2 separate regions of the Homo sapiens genome follow, and region 1 is linked to region 2. Evidence: fine-mapped expression QTL. A gene starts in region 2. The other region holds a variant in brackets. All regions are shown on one strand. Distances are between the middles of the regions. Region 1 holds the start of LOC105376216 (a long non-coding RNA gene). Region 2 holds the start of CTNNAL1 (catenin alpha like 1).

The links. PIP is the estimated chance that this variant, and not a neighbour inherited with it, causes the effect.
Region 1: its variant is the best candidate, but not a certain one, in a credible set for the expression of CTNNAL1 in whole blood (TOPMed, PIP 0.63).

Annotation. Positions count from the first base shown.
Region 1 is chr9:108,983,718-108,989,099 of GRCh38, forward strand. CTNNAL1 (catenin alpha like 1) reads right to left here. Exons shown (of 19, transcript NM_003798.4): 5 at 630-719. LOC105376216 (a long non-coding RNA gene) reads left to right here and starts at 2,034. Exons shown (of 7, transcript XR_007061724.1): 1 at 2,034-2,278. The variant C/A (reference allele first, on the strand shown) is at 2,459.
Region 2 is chr9:109,010,207-109,015,588 of GRCh38, forward strand. CTNNAL1 (catenin alpha like 1) reads right to left here and starts at 3,293. Exons shown (of 19, transcript NM_003798.4): 1 at 3,096-3,293. The coding sequence starts at 3,236. It overlaps TMEM245 (transmembrane protein 245), which reads right to left. Exons shown (of 18, transcript NM_032012.4): 18 at 4,929-5,382. RefSeq lists an enhancer at 2,481-2,984 and a silencer at 2,646-3,535.

The DNA of each region.
Region 1 (5,382 bases), 26 kb before region 2:
GGCCTAGACAAAATAGAGTCTTCTGAGTGGGTTCCACGAAGTCTGTTTTTGTGGCTTCACTGATTCTAGCATGGGGTAAATACTCTCAGAAGAAAAGGTTATTCCAAACAAACTGCTAAAGAGACATTTTACTCATTCATTCTAGAATTGCACCAATTTGCTGGCCAACTGCTGTTTGGAAATACTCTTGATTGATAATTTTGTTAAAAGTGGAAACAGGAATTAAAGGGTGAATTTACAGAATAAACTAAGTGCTGACTTCTTACTCCACTGTATTTAACAGATCTTAACTTGTCTAGCTTTTTCTAGAGCATATGTGCTGGCTCCTCAATGAGACTGGAAAAACCCTGCAGGCAGCTACCATGTGTGACAGGCCTTAATTCATAGCACCTAATACACCATGTTCTGCTGAGCTGTTCAATCAAAGCTGACTCATAAATTAGTTATTATTTGGAGTTGGGGAAGAAAGTTAGCATTCTTATAAATAATAACTGAGATTTAACTATTCAGGCCTATGTTCTAAGTAATCACTTTGATCTTTTTTAAAATGTAAATTATGTAAGTTAAATGCATTTAGTCGGGTGTTCTAATTATTAATTTATTACACAGTAAAACCAAAATTGTCTTACCTTTGAAGCTGTGAGAAGCATCATTGTACACTTTTCAAGAACTGCCCTAGCTGCTGCCATTTTTGCCTTTTTCTTTTCATCTTTCAAATCCTAAATATGAAATAAAATCACGGAGGAGTCTAAGACCATGTGAACAACCCAATTTCTTAAAAAAGTATTTATTCAACACTAATACTCAAGAATTCACTAACATTGTTAAGTGAAAAAAAAAAAAAAACCAGGATAAAGTTTTACAAACTGTCACTGCTTCAATATAAACACATCAACACAATATGAGTAGAAAGAAAAAGCTACTCTTAGTAAGGGCTAGAGAGCCAGAAACTGAGACACAGGTAGAGGCTGCACATGGCTGACATTCTGGTGTTCTGTCATACCTGACATTCTCACGTCAAATGCACACACTGCGTCCTAACCAGAAACACCCAGCCTATGTCTTACCTAATTAAAAGTAAATTGTCTACTGAGCATCTATTGACTATTATTTCCTTCAAAACAGACACTTAAAAGTCGATTCTTTAAGGAGCCTCGTCTAATTAATCCCATCTAACTGCTATGCATCTCAAATTGGGGTTCGTTTGTCTTAATCTTAATCAATATGCTGCTCTGAAATATTCTTAAGATGTTTCTTGGGTAGATAATTTTCCCCAACAAGATTGAAAAGGAACACCTAAGAAAGCACTGTGTATTGAATTTGTTTTGGTGGGGGGTGACTTCTCCTCACAGAGCCCTCAATAGAATGTGTGCTATTCACATGAGGTAGCCAAAGTTTGCTGATCAAATCTACAACAAAATACTCTGTTAATAATTTGGTTATTATATCTAAATCAGAGGTGGGCAATACTTTCAATTAAAGCCCAGATAAACATTTGAGGCCTTCTGAGCTATATGGTCTCCATCACAGCTACTCAATTCTGTCATTGTAGTGTGAAAGCAAACAGAGACAATACACAAATAAATAAGAACAGCTGTGTTCCAAGAAAACTTTATGTATGGACATTGAAATTTGAATTACATAAAATTTTTCCCTGTCACGTTAGCCTTTTTTATTTGTAAGTTAGGTTAAAGGCCCCTTCTTACAAATAAGTAAAACCTAAAGTTTGAGAATGATTTGCCTTTGAAAGTAAATTTGCTTGAATAAATTAGAATGGATTCAGAAGTTAGTCCTACACAATAATATCACTCTCACTCACTTGCATCCCAATATAGATTTAATAAAAGATAGAGATGGAATTACAAATAGTGTACGACAAAGTGCATATAACCCCAAAGCTAATGCAGATCACATCCCAAAGAACTGTGTCCTATATGTGAGTATCATCCATCATGGGTACCTATCAGATAAAGGCTGAGGTTGCTTATAAAATTTCCACCCATTCCTCTTGTCTTTAACATTTTGGACAGGACTCCTTTCAAAACCACCTGTGGGTCTAGCTGACAATGCATCAAGTGTGTATGCCATACCTGACACTTACAAGCCACATATGACACCATAGGCTGTATGGTGATAACAAGCGACAGAAAAAGATGGCATCTCAACCTGGAAAGGGCTGGTCCACAGGACAAAACAGAGGCGTCCATAAAACCCAGATGGTCCATGAAGCACTAAGCGAAGCATCCCAATACCTCCAGAAGTATTTTCCCAGACTTGGGTAAGGCTGTCACTACTGCCACTTTCTTTTTTTTTTTAATTATTATTATACTTTAAGTTTTAGGGTACATGTGCACAATGTGCATGTTAGTTACATATGTATACATGTGCCATGCTGGTGTGCTGCACCCATTAACTCGTCATTTAGCATTAGGTATATCTCCTAATGCTATCCCTCCCC[C/A]CTCCCCGCACCCCACAACAGTCCCCAGAGTGTGATATTCCCCTTCCTGTGTCCATGTGTTCTCATTGTTCAATTCCCATCTATGAGTGAGAACATGCAGTGTTTGGTTTTTTGTCCTTGCGATAGTTTACTGAGAATGATGATTTCCAATTTCATCCATGTCCCTACAAAGGACATGAACTCATCATTTTTTATGGCTGCATAGTATTCCATGGTGTATATGTGCCACATTTTCTTAATCCAGTCTATCATTGTTGGACATTTGGGTTGGTTCCAAGTCTTTGCTATTGTGAATAGTGCCACAATAAACATACGTGTGCATGTGTCTTTACAGCAGCATGATTTATAGTCGTTTGGGTATATACCCAGTAATGGGATGGCTGGGTCAAATGGTATTTCTAGTTCTAGATCCCTGAGGAATCGCCACACTGACTTCCACAATGGTTGAACTAGTTTACAGTCCCACCAACAGTGTAAAAGTGCTCCTATTTCTCCACATCCTCTCCAGCACCTGTTGTTTCCTGACTTTTTAATGATTGCCATTCTAACTGGTGTGAGATGGTATCTCATTGTGGTTTTGATTTGCATTTCTCTGATGGCCAGTGATGATAAGCATTTTTTCATGTGTCTTTTGGCTGCATAAATGTCTTCTTTTGAGAAGTGTCTGTTCATATCCTTTGCCCACTTTTTGATGGGGTTGTTTGTTTTTTTCTTGTAAATTTGTTTGAGTTCATTGTAGATTCTGTATATTAGCCCTTTGTCAGATGAGTAGGTTGCGAAAATTTTCTCCCAATTTGTAGGTTGCCTGTTCACTGTGATGGTAGTTTCTTTTGCTGTGCAGAAGCTCTTTAGTTTAATTAGATCCCATTTGTCAATGTTGGCTTTTGTTGCCATTGCTTTTGGTGTTTTAGACATGAAGTCCTTGCCCATGCCTATGTCCTGAACGGTAATGCCTAGGTTTTCTTCTAGGGTTTTTATGGTTTTAGGTCTAACGTTTAAGTCTTTAATCCGTCTTGAATTAATTTTTGTATAAGGTGTAAGGAAGGGATCCAGTTTCAGCTTTCTACATATGGCTAGCCAGTTTTCCCAGCACCATTTATTAAATAGGGAATCCTTTCCCCATTGCTTGTTTTTCTCAGGTTTGTCAAAGATCAGATAGTTGTAGATATGCAGCATTATTTCTGAGGGCTCTGTTCTGTTCCATTGATCTATATCTCTGTTTTGGCACCAGTACCATACTGTTTTGGTTACTGTAGCCTTGTAGTATAGTTTGAAGTCAGGTATTGTGATGCCTCCAGCTTTGTTCTTTTGGCTTAGGATTGACTTGGCAATGCGGGCTCTTTTTTGGTTCCATATGAACTTTAAAGTAGTTTTTTCCAATTCTGTGAAGAAAGTCATTGGTAGCTTGATGGGGATGGCATTGAATCTATAAATTACCTTGGGCAGTATGGCCATTTTCAAGATATTGATTCTTCCTACCCATGAGCATGGAATGTTCTTCCATTTGTTTGTATCCTCTTTTATTTCATTGAGCAGTGGTTTGTAGTTCTCCTTGAAGAGGTCCTTCACGTCCCTTGTAGTTGGATTCCTAAGTATTTTATTCTCTTTGAAGCAATTGTGAATGGGAGTTCACTCATGATTTGGCTCTCTGTTTGTCTGTTATTGGTGTATAAGAATGCTTGTGATTTTTGCACATTGATTTTGTATCCTGAGGCTTTGCTGAAGTTGCTTATCAGCTTAAGGAGATTTTGGGCTGAGACAGTGGGGTTTTCTAGATATACAATCATGTCATCTGCAAACAGGGACAATTTGACTTCCTCTTTTCCTAATTGAACACCCTTTATTTCCTTCTCCTGCCTAATTGCCCTGGCCAGAACTTCCAACACTATGTTGAATAGGAGTCACCACTGCCACTTTCTTTTCCTTTTGAGACAGTCTCCCTCCCTTGCCCAGGCTGGAGCGCAGTGGCGTGATCTCAGCTCACTGCAGCCTCTGCTTCCCAGGTTCAAGTAATTCTTGTGCCTCAGCCTCCTGAGTAGCTGGGATTACAGGCACATGCCACCACACTCAGCTAATTTCTGTATTTTTAGAAGAGATGGGGTTTCATCATGTTGGCCAGGCTGGTCTCAAACTCCTGACCTCAGGTGATCCACCCACCTCAGCCTCCCAAAGTGCTGGGATTACAGGCATGAGCCACCATGCCCAGCCTCACCACTGCCACTTTCTACCACCTTGGTCCAGGTCACCATCATCTCTCAATAGATTACTGTAATAGCCTCTTGAGTGGTCTCCCTGCCTCTGCCCTTGTCTCCATGCAAACTATTCTCAACATGGCAGCTAGAGTGATACTGTTAAAATGTAAGTCAGAAAACGTCATTCTCCTACTCAAAACCTCCAATGGCTCCCCATTTTACTTAAAGCCAAAGTCCTTACACAGTTTGGCCTGCCCACTACCTCTCTGATTTCATCTTATTACCCTTCCCGTTTGCTCACTTTGATCCATCCATTGGCCTTCGTGTTCTTTGAACACACCATGCATGTTTCTGTTTTATTGTCTATCTCCTCCCACCCCTACTAAAACATAAGCTCCATGAGTGCAGAGGTTTTTGTCACTTTTATTTACTGTTGAATCCTCAACACCTAGTGTAGTATTTGGTTAACAGTAAGCAGCTGATGAATATTTGCTGAGAAAACTGAGAATGCACCTGACCTATAGCTCTTTGCAGGATATTTTGACTATTCTAAAGGAGAAAGCATTTGAACCCTGGATGCATATTCCAAAAAAGTGACCCAGGAGTAGCACTTATCAAACACAGATGATAAAAAGGCTGCCAGTAAGTTTCAGGGGTCCCACATTTAATGAGCTAAATTGCTAAAAATAGATACCACTTCAGCCAGAAGTTTTTAAATGTTGGATCACAATA
Region 2 (5,382 bases):
TGTTTGTTATCAATGTAGAAAAATGCAATTGATTTTAGTATCCTACACTCAGTGAACTTGCCAACACTCCTAATTTTTATAATTTACTTGTAGACTGTTTTGAGTTTTCTGCATAGGTTATTATATCACACTGAGACTTTTGGTTTTTCCTTTCCTATATTTATTCCTTTTATTTCTTCTCCTTGTCATATTACACTGGCTAGAATTTCCAGTGCAGTGCTGAGTAGAAGCATAGCAGGCACCCCACTCTGGTTTCTGGCTTTAAAGGAAATGTTTATTTTAAATTTGACTGTTGCTATGATGTTAAGTAAAAGTTTTCTGTAGATACTCTATCAGGTTAAGGACACTTTTTCCTAACACTAGTTCCCTAAGTGCTTCTTATCATTATTAGAAGCTGAATTTAGTTGAATGCTTTTTCTGCATCATTGTTAGGAAAATACATCTTTTATAATCTGTGAATGCAAAAAAAACTATACACATTTTTCTAATATTGATAAAATCTTGCATTCTTAGAATAAGGCCAGTAACCCAGGACTTTTCACTTGGAGAGTCAGAAGAAGCTAGATGATACCAGAATAGAAACTGTCTACTTTAAACCGTATAGTGCCAGTCCTACTTGTTTACCTCAAAACCCTGCCTCCTCCATGACATCACTGCTGACTCATCCATGCCTTCTCTGAGCTTTTAGAGTATGTACCATTGATGATGTTCATTTGACACTTTGCATGTGCTGTTCTATACATGACCTATCTACCAACTAGAATATAAGCCCCTCAAAAAACAGCAACAAATAAGCACACAATAAATCCTTGCTTAAAATGCTTAAAATATCCTTGTGGATGAGATGGTGAAACATGAGTTGGGTAATAATACAGCATTCTCAGAAAATGAGACTTGTGGACATATGAGTTTTCTGGAGAACTGCTGTTTTAATCTCCTAACACTGAAACTTTAAAATCATTCTAAATTGTACTTCCCTGCTTTGTTAACCGAGTATTCTGGCCATGCTTAATACACTTCTTGATTTTAACTTTTTCTTGTTAAGGACAGTCAATTATGAGGAATATCAGTTATGGTGTTGTGGTAGAGATGTAGCTGTAGATACACAATGTGTGGGATGCAAAACCTCAGCTGTGACCCTGAACAAGGCTTTAACTGGAAAAAGAAAAAAAAAAAAAGGCAGGCATTCTTCCCCTTTGGCATTGACCTCTAACTCTCAGCAGTGATTTATACTTTTCTTCCTCTGCTCTCCTACCCTTCTCTGGCTTCTTTTACCCCAGAGTTACACAATGCAGAGCTGTAAGACTGATACATTTTTAGCAGTGGATACTGTGAAAAGTTGCCATTTCTCCAGATTATGACTTTCTAGCTTGTTTTTCCACTATGTACCATCTTTTTCTCTAGATCTCATTACTGCTTCTAATCTCTAGAGAGGACACAGCATAGTGTAGCAAAGAGAACCTTCTGGAGCCAGGGTACCTGGATTCAAATCCCAGTTTGGCACTTATTGAAAGCCCTAACAACAAATTATTTAACCTCAGTATTCCTCAGTTTCCTCTCCCATACCACGAGAATATATACCAACTTCACATGATTGTTATGAGAATTAATGAGTTAATATTTACAAAGTGCTTAGAACCTGGCCTACCACATAGTAAGCATTACATAGGTGTTATTTAAAAAATGGATAAAATACTATCAACTTGAACTCCATCACTCTCTTATCTCTCTGCCTCTTAAAACTGCTCCAGTGTTTCTCGTTTTGGTTGTGTTGTGCTAGTGGAGATAGGCGAGGAGCGGAGGGTCTGACATTACTGAGGGATCCCAGTGCCCCTTCCCACTGGTCAGAGCCTCAATGAGACACAGGAAAAGGGAAGGAGAGTGTCAGATATATTCATCACTGCTCCGTTAGCCATGCGAAGGTGAAGAAAATAGGGATGTTTATTTAACCAGCATAACAGGAATCCAGGGACATGTGTAACTGCTGTTTTCAAATATGCGCAGGGCTGGGCAGGAGAAGAGATAATAGCATTTAGAATTCTATGCAACAGCTACAGGCTCCCCTTCACTGAACATGTTTAAGCAGGGTACTGGTGGCCAGGTGTCAAGGATGCTAAAGAAAGAATTTTTAGTCAGATAATCTTTAAGATTTCTTCTACCTCTAAAATCTTGGTAATCCTAGTATGAGTCACGAAGTGGTTACAACCTAGATGTGAGTCACACATCGCCAACGCGCTCCCGAAGGCACAGAATTCACTCCCCACAGTGCTTGGCATCTTACCACAGACCTAAGTGAGGAATTCTAGCCCTGAAGCTGCATATAACCCAGCTCAGAGAAACAAAAACTTTCCTAAAACTCAGGGCGTCGGTTAGCTGATTGGCAAATACAGTAACGCACACATCCCAAACGGGACTTGGCAAAACGGTGTGCATCTGGATTAACTGTCATACAGTCTCCACGTCACTCTTCCACGAGGCCGGACAGAAGCGGGCAGAAGTGAGCAGCAGCAGGTTCAGGGGAAGGGGTAGGGTGGCCGGGATGAATGGGAGGCCAGCGAACTGACCTACGGCGGGGAGGGACAAAGGATCAGGGAGCGCACGCTGGGCGGGGAGGCCGGGAGGAATACCCCAGGCGGAGGAGCCGGGCTCGGGACCAGGCTGCGAACTGGTGACAAAGTCGGTTATCGTGGAGGGCCCTAAGTACCAGCGAGGGGCCCCGCGGGGGTCCTCTCTGCCTCGGGAGCTGGGCTCAACCACTCGCCCCGCGGAGGGGGCATCGCCCGGCCGGGGGCACCCGGGAGCCGCAGACCCGAGGCAGGTACTGGGGGCAAAGGCCCAGGCCGGCACCCCCGCCCCGCAGCCTCCCCTGCTGCCGAGTCCACTCAACCCTGCCGCCGGAGTTTGGATTATCCAGTCTCTCGCCGCCCGGGCCGAGGCCCGTCCCGGAGCCCCACACAGGCGGTCCGACAAGAACGCCGCAGTGCCGGCGCGGAAAGTGGGGCAGCGGCTGCCTCCCGTCCGGTCGTGCGAGCGGCGGCCGCCATCGCGGGCCGCGGCGGGAAGGAGAAGAGGGGCCGCGCCAGGCGCCACTTTACCTGAGAAACCAGCGGGAGTAGCGTCTGCTCCACCGAGCGAGTTTTGATCTCCAGTCCCGAGTCGAGGGCGAAGCCCGAAGAGCCGGAGCCGTAGACTGCTCCGGCGCCGCCAACGCCGGCGGGTCCGGGAGAGGCGGCCATGGCCCTCGGTCTATCCCGCAGCCGGGACTCCGCGCCGCGGCGAGCCTGCCGCCAGTCAGCCCACCCGCCCGAGGCGGCGGCGACAGGACACTCGCGCCAACCGAGACCCCGCCCCCAGGGGCCCGCCCCCCCAGGGCTCCGCCGCCAACCCTGCGTCCCCGACGCCCGTCACCGTATGTCCCCGCCCACCCCCGGCCTCTGCCCCGCCCGCGCAGTCCAGCCTGGTGTGGGCTCCCTGCAACCCCACCCCCTAAGCCGGGTCCCGCCCCCACATGGCCCCGCCCTTATCTCTTCTCAGACCCCTTCCATGGGTTCCAGGCACCTTCTCGCCAGGGTGGCGAGGAGAAACAAAACACATCTGTCACACAGCCACATGGCCTCCTCTTACTTGGACAGACAAGCGTCCCCAGCAAAGCTTCCCGTCCTCTCGATAGGTGACTCGTCCTAAATCAGCTCTGAATTCCCGCAAAGACTTCTGGAAGCTGTGCTGGGGTTGAAACTGGTAGACCAAAACCAGAATCAAGTCTGTTGGGAGGGGCCTTTCCCCTGGGACGGGAATTCCAGTGGTAATGTCTTCCTGGGGCTTCTCCGGAAGGTCCAATTTCCACTCCACCCTGCTCATTCTTTCACCATGTATTTCTCACAAACACTTTGAGCTGGATTGAAGGGGAAACATTTGATAATGCAATCATTAATGGAGTATCTGGGTATTCGGCAGGAAGTCAGTATATCTTTCACACTACTGTTTAGACTTATTCAAAAGAAATTTAAAAGAAACATGAAAAAGCCTCATCTACTGTTCAACACTACTTCTTAAAACTATTTTTCGAAGTTTTTTCCTAGTGCCAGGCACAGAGCAGTTTCTTCATAACTGTTCATTGCATGAAAACACCAAGTGTGTATTTCTGACAACTCACTTGAGGGGAAGGGTAAGAATCAGTTCTGTAAGCACAACTCTGAGCTCGCACAGAGCCCCACGATGGGGGCGGGGAGCTGAAGACTCCTATTCTAAGGTCTCCAGGAGCAAGGCCAAAAGGAGGTTGTCAGCAGTATGCACGCCGTGAAGGAATTCCAGACTTAAGCAACAGACTGAGAAGCATGAAAAAATGTTTTGTCAACTACCATATCTGCCAGTGAGAACCTGTCAGAGTAAAAAAGAATCTGAGGCTGGCCAGTCCACCCGGACACCTTGGCCTGGATCATTTCTTCTTCCATAACACCAGATTGATGAGCTGGGTACATCAACCTGAGGCATAAGAAAGCTCTTTCCCAAGCACCGTTGAAAGGCGCTTCACAGTGCTTCAACCTGTAGCTTCAGCTTCATCAATCTACCAGTGCTGCACAGCTGTCTTTGGTATTGAAGATAGCCAAGCTTCAGCTTCTTTTTCTTCATTCAAAAAGGACAGGTCCTCAATCCAACTTTTTCTTCCAATTCTTCTCAGCCAACCATCTCACCACTTCCTTACCTATCACAAGGCCACCTTCCCCTGTGCACTGAGGGCCCTTGACCTCTTTAAGGCGCCCAGTGTCCACTTCCTGGACACACCTTCCCTTACGAAGTTGACAGTATCTCCTAAGAATTCAGTGTACACAATGGTGCCGGAGGAAATGGCATAACAGAAGGCCTAAGAGACGGATGGATTCATGAAACTTTGGCTTCACAAAAGATCAAGTTTTTCAACACACAGGAGATTAAGTTTACCACATGATTCATTCAACACTAGTAATTTTATTTCAAAATATAAATATTTCACATTAATAAAGAAGTTACATCAGTAGGTTGTCAAAGCAAGTTAGCTAAGAAACAGCATTTGTGTGAGAACAGAGGGTATTTATTGTATTCGAATATTCTTTTTTACTTTTGAATTGCCTCCTTCACCTGAGAACCCAGGGATGATACATTTTCAAAGAGTTATGTAAGCAATTACAACTCTATATCAAATCTTAGTTCAAAATCAAATTGTACTGGAAATACACTTCAGTTACCTAAATAAGTGGCACTGCAAAGGGCAAAGAAGGGTTTTCTTTGGGATGGCTACAATGAGAGTTACATCTGCTGGGTCTCTGCAATAAAAAATAAATGATATTTGATAATAAGCCAAAATTATCAGGATTTGCTTCCATACTTTTCACTGTAAAATAAAAA